2 separate regions of the Homo sapiens genome follow, and region 2 is linked to region 1. A link means that fine-mapping ties the variant in region 1 to the expression of a gene that starts in the linked region. Tissue or cell type: adrenal gland. Region 1 holds a variant in brackets; the other region holds the start of a gene. All regions are shown on one strand. Distances are between the middles of the regions.

Region 1 (5,381 bases):
CAGTGACAGCTGTAGTAGCCTTGCACCCAGATGGAAGCTCCACATTGAAGACAGCAGAGCAGACCAGCCCACCTGGGGCTCTGGATGCCTTCTTAGGGCAGACAACAGTATACTCACTCTAAACTACCAACCTACCTCTGGACTATTAGATGACATAGAAAGTTCTCTAATCTTTGAGCTATTGTAGCTAATAGGCGGGAGTCAGCCTCATGTGCTCTCTATTGATACAGATTAAATTTGATACAAATGTACATAGGTGTTCCTCTACACATCTATTCAGTAAATATGTCAAAACGTCTACTGGGTACTAGATACTACATATTCTGAACCTTATACATGATAGTATCAATATTTCTGGGATGGGTGGTATTATTGTTCTTTGTTTACAGTCTTTATTATTGTGACTAACAGGACTGACATTAATCTTGATTCAATGTTAACGTTTTCAGCTCCCTAATTTTTATAGCATTGAGTGCTTACTCTGACAGCTGCTTTATCTAAGTCATCTCCTTCAATCTTCAGAACAACCTTATGAGACAGGTATTATCACTCCAGTTTCACAAATTAAGAAGCTAAACCTTAGCCAGGTGCTGCACTCTTATAGTCCTAGCTACTCAGAAGGCTGAAGCAGGAGGATTGCTTGAGACCAGGAGTTTGAGTCCAGCCTGGGCAACACAGTGAGACAAGAATGAAAAGGGAAGGGAAGGAAAAGTGGAGGGGAAGGAAAGGAAAGAAAAATGGGAAGGGGAAGGGGAATGGTAGGGGCAGGGGAAGGGAAAAAGGAAGAGGAAAGCAAGGGGAAGGGAAGGAAAGGAAAGAAAAAAGGGAAGGAAGGAAGGAAAAAGGGAAGAAAGGAAGGGAGAGAGGGAAAGAAAGAAAGAAACTAAGTCTTTTTTAAAAATTGACTTTAATTTGCTTAAGAACAAGCAAATAATCTAATCTTAAAACAGAAGGAGAGATTTCTAGTCTTCTGAGTGGTTAAGAGTGACAGAACAAGATCTTGCTCAATGACCTTTCAACATTGCTCTGGGCTAGTTTCCCAAATTTGATACATGAAACAATAGTTCAGAAAAGTGACCTATTCAATTTGTTTTAACCCAATGTTTCCCTAACATACTTGGCTATGAGACCCTTTTGTCAAATAATGCTATTAGCTTCCAATGGGATTTTTGTGAAGGGTGGCTCTAGACGTAATTGTGAAGCAATGTGATGCCCCCCCCCACCCCCCGCAACTTCATCTGTTTTGATTCCCCTCACTTCCAGCTGTTACACCTGATTGGAAATATCCTCCCAAGAGAAATTATATTATCATAAAGCTCCAAACAACACTTTACAAAAAGGTGCGATTTCAGGCAACGCCAGGGAAAACCACTTTGCATTGGGAATTTCTTGGATTCCTTAAATCCTACCTGGAATGGTGCCACCTTGTCTGCTCTGATGACCTCTGCAGGAGAGGAAAGGACTAGGGTTCCTGTTAGGAGCTTAAGTGCTTAGAAACAAAAGTGACCTCTTCATGAGGCAGACAATACTCTAGTCTCATAATTCAGAGGGCTTGAATTTGAGTATCAAGACAAACAGTTACAGCAAGTTCTGACTGAGCAGTGAGATCTCATAAAAATTCACCCAAATTTAGGTAATAGGAATTGATTCTACTACAGGTAAAGAAACTGAGTAAAGGGGACAGTGAAAGACCATCTGATAGTGTAAATTCCAGGCAGGTTCTAAATCTGTTTCCCAAGGAGCTTTCTGGATATAACATTCAGTCCTTCTACAAATTACAGAGAGATCACAGAACCTCTCAAAACAAGCAACAATTAAAACGTGGCAGCTACAGAGTATGTGGGTAGACAGAAAAGGTTGGCTGTCAAGGAGCTGGTGGCTGGAGAGGCAAGGAAGCTGGTCAGTGCCCTCTGTCCCCTCCACCCTTCCTGAAACAATTGTAGTGCAAATGCATGTTCATTAATCAGCAAGTCCAAGCTAGGGCAGACTTTTCTGGCTCTGTTTGCAGTGCCAGGGCTCTTGCTCCAGCGTTGTCATGGGGAAGTTATTGTTGTCCTCCTGGCAACAGGTTACCTAGGTGAACGCCAAACAGCCCAACCTGGCCTAGTGAGCACTGGGCCTGTTCAGCCACTGTCCCCATGCTGCTTTGCCTGTCTTCTCCTTATACTCCCTCAATCCACACTACTGCCCTTATGAGTCACAGCATTCATTCTCACACACAAAGGTGCTACAGAAGGCCACTTACAGCGAACCTGGGGCTTGTCCAA[G/C]GCCATTTTGTACTCTGACCTTTAAAAGCATGCCCAGCCATGGGCAGTCATGCCTGCTCTCTTCAACCCACAACTACAATAAGAGCAGCTCTCAGAAGAGAAATCATTTCCACCTTTTTTTTTTTTTTTTTTTTTTGAAACGGAGTCTTGCTCTGTCACCCAGGCTGGAGTGCAGTGGTGTGATCTCGGCTCACCGCAAGCTCCACCTCCCGGGTTCATGCCATTCTCCTGCCTCAGCCTCCCGAGTAGCTGGGACTACAGGCGCCCGCCACTATACCTGGCTAATTTTTTGTGTTTTTAGTGGAGACGAGGTTTCACCATGTTAGCCAGGATGGTCTTGATCTCCTGACCTCGTGATCCACCCGCCTTGGCATCCCAAAGTGCTGGGATTACAGGCATGAGCCACCGTACCTGGCCCCATTTCCACTCATTTTTACTGAGCATCTTAGTGCCATAATTGAAACAAATTAGAAGCATAAGAAATAACTCCAGTGACGATCAAAGTCTATACCACAAAGTGAAATGAAGCCCTAAGCCAATTAACCTGTGAAATTGATCAATTAATTGTAGACAGCTAAACCAAATGGTTCAGTTAAAGTAAATCCTCAGTTGCTCGTAAACTTGCCAGATATAGCAAATAAAAAGATCTGGTAATGCTACTCCATAAAGGGCTTCTGCTCTAATCATCTGAATTATCACTTCTGCTCCACGTGCTTTCCTGTGCAAAGCCTTCAAGTGTGAAAAACAGGCAGAATTCAGTGGTTCTGGTGTCTATCTCCCTCACCAGCCCTGGGGATGGCGTTAACCTAGCTTACACCTGGCATCTCACCTGTAGTACCCTAAGTAGCCCGGGGTTAAACAAGGGCACTTTCAACACGGCTTAGGGTTTTAGTTTAAACCTGAAACATCAGGATCTATTTAGACCTCTCTTAGAGGCATCCATCCCTTTCAAGAAGCCTCAGAACACACTTGGCATCCCCTGGGTCCCTTGCCCTACTCTGAATTGCCCCAGGGTCCTTCCCCCATTGAACCAGATTTAACAGGATAAGGTGATTCTTCCCTCATTCCAGCCTTGGTGTTTGTATCCAGTTCCAAGAAATTCAGTTAGTTAATACAGAGCTATGACAACCTAAGGTAAAAATTTGCGGACTTCGGTAAATTTACTTGGTGACAGGTGATGAAGAAGAAAGGGCAGGGAGCAAGCAGTTAGAAAACCTGAGTTTGGAGATGATGTGCTGTGAGATCTTGAGTAAGTCATTACACCTCTGTGGGCCTCCATTTCCCAATCTGTTTGTTACCCATAAGCCACATGGCATGATATTAAAGTAGGGTCACAATAGCAGTAGAAAGCAATAGTTCTCTGGCTCTAGCCCACTGCCAACTCTTCTCCCTGACCTAATCTTGGGAGTCTCCAAAAAGCATCTCATGTGGATTCAAAATCAGTCCTCTCCATGGCCACATGTGATATATGGGTTTCCTCTTCTTTAGCTCTGAATACTTTCAGAGATCTCTATGGCTAAGCTATCTATCCACTAAGCCCCTGGTGCTGCTGTAACTAGCATTAAAGTTGCTCCACAGGGCCAAAGCCACCAGGCCAGGCCAGGTCACCAATACTCTGGGTGGCAGTTCTGGGTCAGGGACCTGGATCCCTTAGGATCATTGCTACAGTTTCTGGTGCCAGACCCTGAGGGCACTGATACATGTGTCGGGGTGTTGATATCACCCTTTCTCTTGGCATCCTCACATGAGCCCTGAAACTGAATATATAGTTTCCGTTTTATGGAAAAGGAAAGTAAGACTCAGGAAGATAAAACAACAAAACCAAGACTGCAAAACCAGTAAGCGACAGAACTAGGGTTTAGACCCAGATCCACCTAACTCCAAACCTTGCCATTCCTCAAAACTATCACTTATGGGAAACGTGCGATGTTCACTGCTCCAGAGCTCATGTCCCAAGTCCTATACAATTTGTATATTCCTTTAGTTGGCAAGTTTTTATGATAGTAGAGAGATGTTCATACTAATTACACTACAGATCTGCTAAAAAGATCTATGAAAAGAGGTCTACAAAGTTATCTGTCAATTCTACATGAATACTCATATATTCTGATAAGGAAGACACTAACTCACTAAATTCCAAGAGAAAAATAGATCAAGTAAATGGACAATTTCCAGAGGACAGAATATAAATGACTAATAAATATTTAAAAATCTAATATTACTAGTAAATGTTTTTAAATGCACTAAAATGAGATACTACTTTTAACCTATCAAATTAGGAAAAGAAAATACTCAGAGTTGGTAGTGTCATTGGCTTCTAGTGCACAAACAAATTGGTACAACTTTTCCCGAAAGTAATTTGGCAACACATAGAATCATTAAAAGTGCAAATCATTTAACCCCAAAACTCTCATTCTGGGACACAGTCCTGAGGAAATAATCAGAAGCTCAGAAAAATACTTTATCTACAAAGACCTTCACCAAAGTGTTAATTATTGTAACAAAGCTGGAAATAACATAAATGTCTAACAATCAGAAAATAGTTAATTAAATACAGCCATATGATTAGATAGTATGCAGCTATTAAAGTGATATGGTCAAAAAATTAATGACATAGGAAATGTTCATTTGAAAATAAAGATACAAAATCGTACGGACAGTATTTTCATACTTTTGATTTAAACGAATGAAGGCAATATTTTGCAATGATTCTGAACATTTCTATGTACTCTACAATGATGTATATTTCCTTTATAATCAAAAAAATATATCTAACAAACAAAAAGCTTCAGGCTCCTTCCGGTCATTTTTTCTGACATGCTGAGTTGGACAAGGGCCTCAAGCATCACTGAAGTAAAAGAACATGGAGGATCCCTTTGGGCCAATATCTGACTCATTCTACCATATCACAAGGCCAGACAAAAGCTGATTAATGTTCATAATAATGATCACAATAGTAGCATAATAGTAGAGGTGGTAGCAACCAGTTTTGTTTACTCAGTACCAGGCTCCACTATCCATCTTTCAGATATGTTGTATCATTTAATCCTCACAAAACTCTATGAGGCAACTATTACCCCCATTTGAAAGATGAAGAAACTGGGGTTCAAAGAG
Region 2 (5,381 bases), 35 kb before region 1:
CTTCGCTGCCGGGGTCGGAGATTCCTCGGCGCGGAGCTAGGGGCGGGTCCGGAGGCGGAGGCGACAGCGCCCGGCGGGGTACGCGCGGCTGCGACCCCGTCACTCCCCCGCCGCCTCCGCCCCTAACCCTCGGCCCCGTGCGCGAGCGAGCGAGGGAGCGAACGCAGCGCAACAAAACAAACTAGTGCCGGCTTCCTGTTGTGCAACTCGCTCCTGAGTGAGTCGGGGGCCGAAAGGGTGCTGCGGCTGGGAAGCCCGGGCGCCGGGGACCTGCGCGCGCTGCCCGGCCTGGCCGGAGCCTGTAGCCCGGGGGCGCCACGGCCGGGCTCGCAGTCCCCCCACGCCGGCCCCCCGGTCCCCGCCGAGCCAGTGTCCTCACCCTGTGGTTTCCTTTCGCTTCTCGCCTCCCAAACACCTCCAGCAAGTCGGAGGGCGCGAACGCGGAGCCAGAAACCCTTCCCCAAAGTTTCTCCCGCCAGGTACCTAATTGAATCATCCATAGGATGACAAATCAGCCAGGGCCAAGATTTCCAGACACTTGAGTGACTTCCCGGTCCCCGAGGTGACTTGTCAGCTCCAGTGAGTAACTTGGAACTGTCGCTCGGGGCAAGGTGTGTGTCTAGGAGAGAGCCGGCGGCTCACTCACGCTTTCCAGAGAGCGACCCGGGCCGACTTCAAAATACACACAGGGTCATTTATAGGGACTGGAGCCGCGCGCAGGACAACGTCTCCGAGACTGAGACATTTTCCAAACAGTGCTGACATTTTGTCGGGCCCCATAAAAAATGTAAACGCGAGGTGACGAACCCGGCGGGGAGGGTTCGTGTCTGGCTGTGTCTGCGTCCTGGCGGCGTGGGAGGTTATAGTTCCAGACCTGGCGGCTGCGGATCGCCGGGCCGGTACCCGCGAGGAGTGTAGGTACCCTCAGCCCGACCACCTCCCGCAATCATGGGGACACCGGCTTGGATGAGACACAGGCGTGGAAAACAGCCTTCGTGAAACTCCACAAACACGTGGAACTTGAAAAGACAACTACAGCCCCGCGTGTGCGCGAGAGACCTCACGTCACCCCATCAGTTCCCACTTCGCCAAAGTTTCCCTTCAGTGGGGACTCCAGAGTGGTGCGCCCCATGCCCGTGCGTCCTGTAACGTGCCCTGATTGTGTACCCCTCTGCCCGCTCTACTTGAAATGAAAACACAAAAACTGTTCCGAATTAGCGCAACTTTAAAGCCCCGTTATCTGTCTTCTACACTGGGCGCTCTTAGGCCACTGACAGAAACATGGTTTGAACCCTAATTGTTGCTATCAGTCTCAGTCAGCGCAGGTCTCTCAGTGACCTGTGACGCCGGGAGTTGAGGTGCGCGTATCCTTAAACCCGCGCGAACGCCACCGGCTCAGCGTAGAAAACTATTTGTAATCCCTAGTTTGCGTCTCTGAGCTTTAACTCCCCCACACTCTCAAGCGCCCGGTTTCTCCTCGTCTCTCGCCTGCGAGCAAAGTTCCTATGGCATCCACTTACCAGGTAACCGGGATTTCCACAACAAAGCCCGGCGTGCGGGTCCCTTCCCCCGGCCGGCCAGCGCGAGTGACAGCGGGCGGCCGGCGCTGGCGAGGAGTAACTTGGGGCTCCAGCCCTTCAGAGCGCTCCGCGGGCTGTGCCTCCTTCGGAAATGAAAACCCCCATCCAAACGGGGGGACGGAGCGCGGAAACCCGGCCCAAGTGCCGTGTGTGCGCGCGCGTCTGCGAGGGCAGCGGCGGCAGGGGGAGGAGGAGGCAGAGGCGGGGTGGCTGGACCCTCGGCATCAGCTCATTCTCCCCTGCTACACACATACACACACAAATAATGTTTCTAAAAAGTTCAGTTGCGACTTTGTGCCTCGCCTGTCCTGTTCATCCTCGTCCTGGGCCGGGGAATGCTTCTGGGGGCCGACCCCGGGATGCTGGCTAATTGCTGCCGGCGGGTTCCGTCGCCGGTGTGACCCTGGACGGCGCGGACGGCGTACAGGGGGTCCCGGGAGGGGCAGTGGCCGCGGCACTCGCCGCCGGTGCCCGTGCGCGCCGCGCTCTGGGCTGCCCGGGCGGCGCAGTGTGGACGCGGCTGCAGGGAGAGGGGAAGGGGGAAGAGGGAGGGAGGAAGGCAGCCGGGCGAGGAGTGTGGATGTGTGTGCGGCCGCGAGGGCCGGCCTGTAGCCAGCTGCTTCCTGAGTGTGAGCGCCGGAGGGGGAGGGGGAAGAGTGGGGGCGGGCTCGCGGGTCACTAGGCTGGCCAATTCGAAGGCCGAGCTTGTGTCTCCCTCTTGACGCATTCACACACACACACACACACACACACACACACACACACACTCCCCGTGCGCCAGAAGTCGAGGAACTCCAGAACAGGGTAACAGCAGGGAGACACTTCGCCTTCTTCCTGGCCTTATTTGTTAAACTGACTTATTTTAACATGAAAAAGTGTTAGTGTTTAGACAGGATTTGATGTCAGGTCATAAAAAAATAAACAAACAACCAAAAAAATCCGGTAGTAATACGGAGAGAATAACACAGTGAAAAATGGCAAAAGGGTTGCTTTGAAATATCGGATCGGATGCACATGACAGCTTCGAAACTGGATAGGTGAAGCACTAAGGAAGGCTTTGGCATCCTTTCCAAGTATAGGCAGGGAAGAGAGGAAGGTGATGGAAGTGTTAGAAGGGTATAAAATTCTGAACACAGGCTGTTAAGAATGGAGGTATATTCCCTGCGTATGTTACGTCTATAAAGTGGCACTTTATCCTTATGAATTCAACATCCTCAGCCTCATACCCCACCTAAGCTCTGACTCGCCACCGCTTCTGCTTGTGTTGACCAGAGCCCTCAAAAGGTTGTTACAAGAAAGTCTGCTCCTAGTAGTTCATCACATGTATTGCCACAGATGCAAGGACTTCCATCTTGGGAATCTAGGTATGTAATGCACACAATATCCTCCAGGTAGGCCTTTCTGCAGTTGACAGTATTATTCACCATCATGAATGAAATGAGTGAGGATGCCACCAGACACTTAGAATTTCACAAGTCCTTATATTCTATTCTACTGTTACCACTCCAATATAAATTAGCAATCAGGTAGTAGATGCTTTGATCAAGACAGAAGTCCTCAAGGACACAAATGACTTACCCCAGAAAGCCAAAACTAAAAGACTATTGGCAGTTTTCATTTATCTAATTTCAGTGGGAATACTACTAGGCTTGGTCTGTATCCATGATATTAACATAACCAAAAGAAGCCTGGTTTCCACAGTACTTTTTCTTTTCTTTTCCTTCACCTTGGGACACAAACTCATCAGAATATTTGTCAGCAGAAGTAGGGGATGAAAAATAGTAAGAGGTCAGGATATGTCATTCTGTCAGTTTTCCAGTTTCTCTCTGTTCATCTCTTTTAAATACAAGTATTCAAGCCCAAGATGGCAATAGATGGGCTCAACCACACGTAAGAAAAGAAAATACTCATAAAATGAAGCATGCAGCAACATCACAAAAACAAAGAAACCAAGTGGTGGAAATTGCCATGACTATTCCATTGTGGCTAGTTATTGCAACATGCCTGACATTCACATAAAAACTCTTCCTCATTAACTCCAGCCTTAAGGAACAGAGCAAGATGGCAACACTAACCCTTCAATGCATCATGGGAACTTCTGTTCATCAGATTCTTGTGCTGTACAACTGCTTCCCAGGAGCAAGACAAGCCTGGGTGGAGACTGCAAAAAACCTTTCCAATGTCCCTCAAATATCATTTTAAATACAATGGTTTTGATGCATAGAATGGTATCCTAGGGGCTTGCAGAAGCTTCTAAAACTTCCCAAATGATGGGAACAGCTTAGCTGGAAGAGAAAAAAATATAGTGCTACACCCAACTTTAATCAATAGCTCATGGAAAAAAACACTGGGAAAGTTAGGAGTCATCAACCTGGAGATCCCCAAAATCTCTTCATTTATAAGAGCCCAAGAGTGGGAATGTCATTTTATTTAGGTGTGATTTTCATGAACCTCTAACATTCCTAAAATATTTACCACTGAAGAGGTATAGTGCTTTGGTTGAATTTTTTTCTTTTTTTTTTTTTCTGGCCAAGAATGTAGATCTGCAATGTTCTTATATTCCATGGGTTATAGTAAAAATGCAGTTGTTCTTGTACCAGTACAACCCTGGAATGACTCAGAATGAGATCTGTACCTCTTCTGGGCTGAATTGGTCAGCAGGGGTGAGGGAGGGTGGTAATGAGAGACAGTGAGAAAGGAAATCATGTAGTTCCAAAATGATACTCTCCCTTACCCATGAGCTCTCCATCGTGCTTAGGAATCATACTCTGGCAGCCCTTCAGCCAGATAGGTGGGAACTGCAGCCCAGTCAGTATCTTCCCTCTCTAGAGACCAGTGTTGTATGTGCCTCAACCGCTGACTCAGGGCAGCTGACTCAGCAGACAGGCCCCTGCTGCCAGCTCCAGTCCAGTTCTCATTCATCAGAGAAATATTCAGTGAGTACACACTCTGTCCAAGTATTGGGACTAAAGGAATTAACACTTGTAGGCATTGTATATGGGAGGATATTACAGAAAACTTTTTGCCCAGTGTCTTAGTTGTAGCAAACCCTCAAGAAATGGGGACTCTTTGCATATATTACCTCATCTAATTCTCAAATCAAATGTATGATGTGGCTATGAATAATCTCCTACTTAGAAGCAAAGAAGTTGAAGCTCAGTAAACAGTTAAAGAGAGTCAGAGACAGAGCCAAGTATGCCAGTTTAGAAGCCCCAAGTTCAATCAACATTACTGTACTACAGAATAATTGTGCATGCTCTTTGAATGTGTATAAAACATATTGCAGGTGTATAAAGTGCAAAGCATCTTGTGGTCAGTGTTAGATGAGCACAATGAAGTTTGTAGGGAGTGTGGAGGAGGCAGGAATAATTTCCTGCAATGTGACATGGAGTAGCTTGGCTGTTTGAGCTGGACTTCAAAGAATGAGTAGAGAAGTGATAAGCAAAGGAGACCATTTCAAGTATAGGAATCAGCATCAAAAGGGGCACAGAAGGCATAAGTCCTGCATAGCAAGCAGCTCACTCAAAGCTAGAGTACAAAATAGGAACATCCACTGTCTCACAGCAATGAAACTCTCCCGAAGGAACATCCTGACAGCAAAACTTCAGAACTGCTATTTGAGTCACCCTGAGTGCTCTGACAGTAAACCACTTACAAACTTGCAAAGAACTATGATCAGATTCCTCCTCCCACAAAGTGTCCGTGAAAAGAAACAAATTTGAACCCCAAAATACAGATAAGTTGAGCTAATAGCACCAGTGATAGTATGCCTAGCTATTAAAACACAGACACACACACACA

Evidence for each region.
Region 2: GLIS3 starts here. The variant in region 1 is fine-mapped to the expression of GLIS3 in adrenal gland (GTEx, PIP above 0.99).

What each region holds. Positions count from the first base shown.
Region 1 is chr9:4,332,524-4,337,904 of GRCh38, forward strand. It overlaps a transcript of GLIS3 not described here. Among named protein-coding and RNA genes, the nearest start is that of GLIS3, 35 kb to the left of the region's middle. The variant G/C (reference allele first, on the strand shown) is at 2,268.
Region 2 is chr9:4,297,901-4,303,281 of GRCh38, forward strand. GLIS3 (GLIS family zinc finger 3) reads right to left here and starts at 2,168. Exons shown (of 11, transcript NM_001042413.2): 1 at 1,521-2,168. It overlaps GLIS3-AS2 (GLIS3 antisense RNA 2), which reads left to right and starts at 1,401. Exons shown (of 4, transcript NR_186824.1): 1 at 1,401-1,523.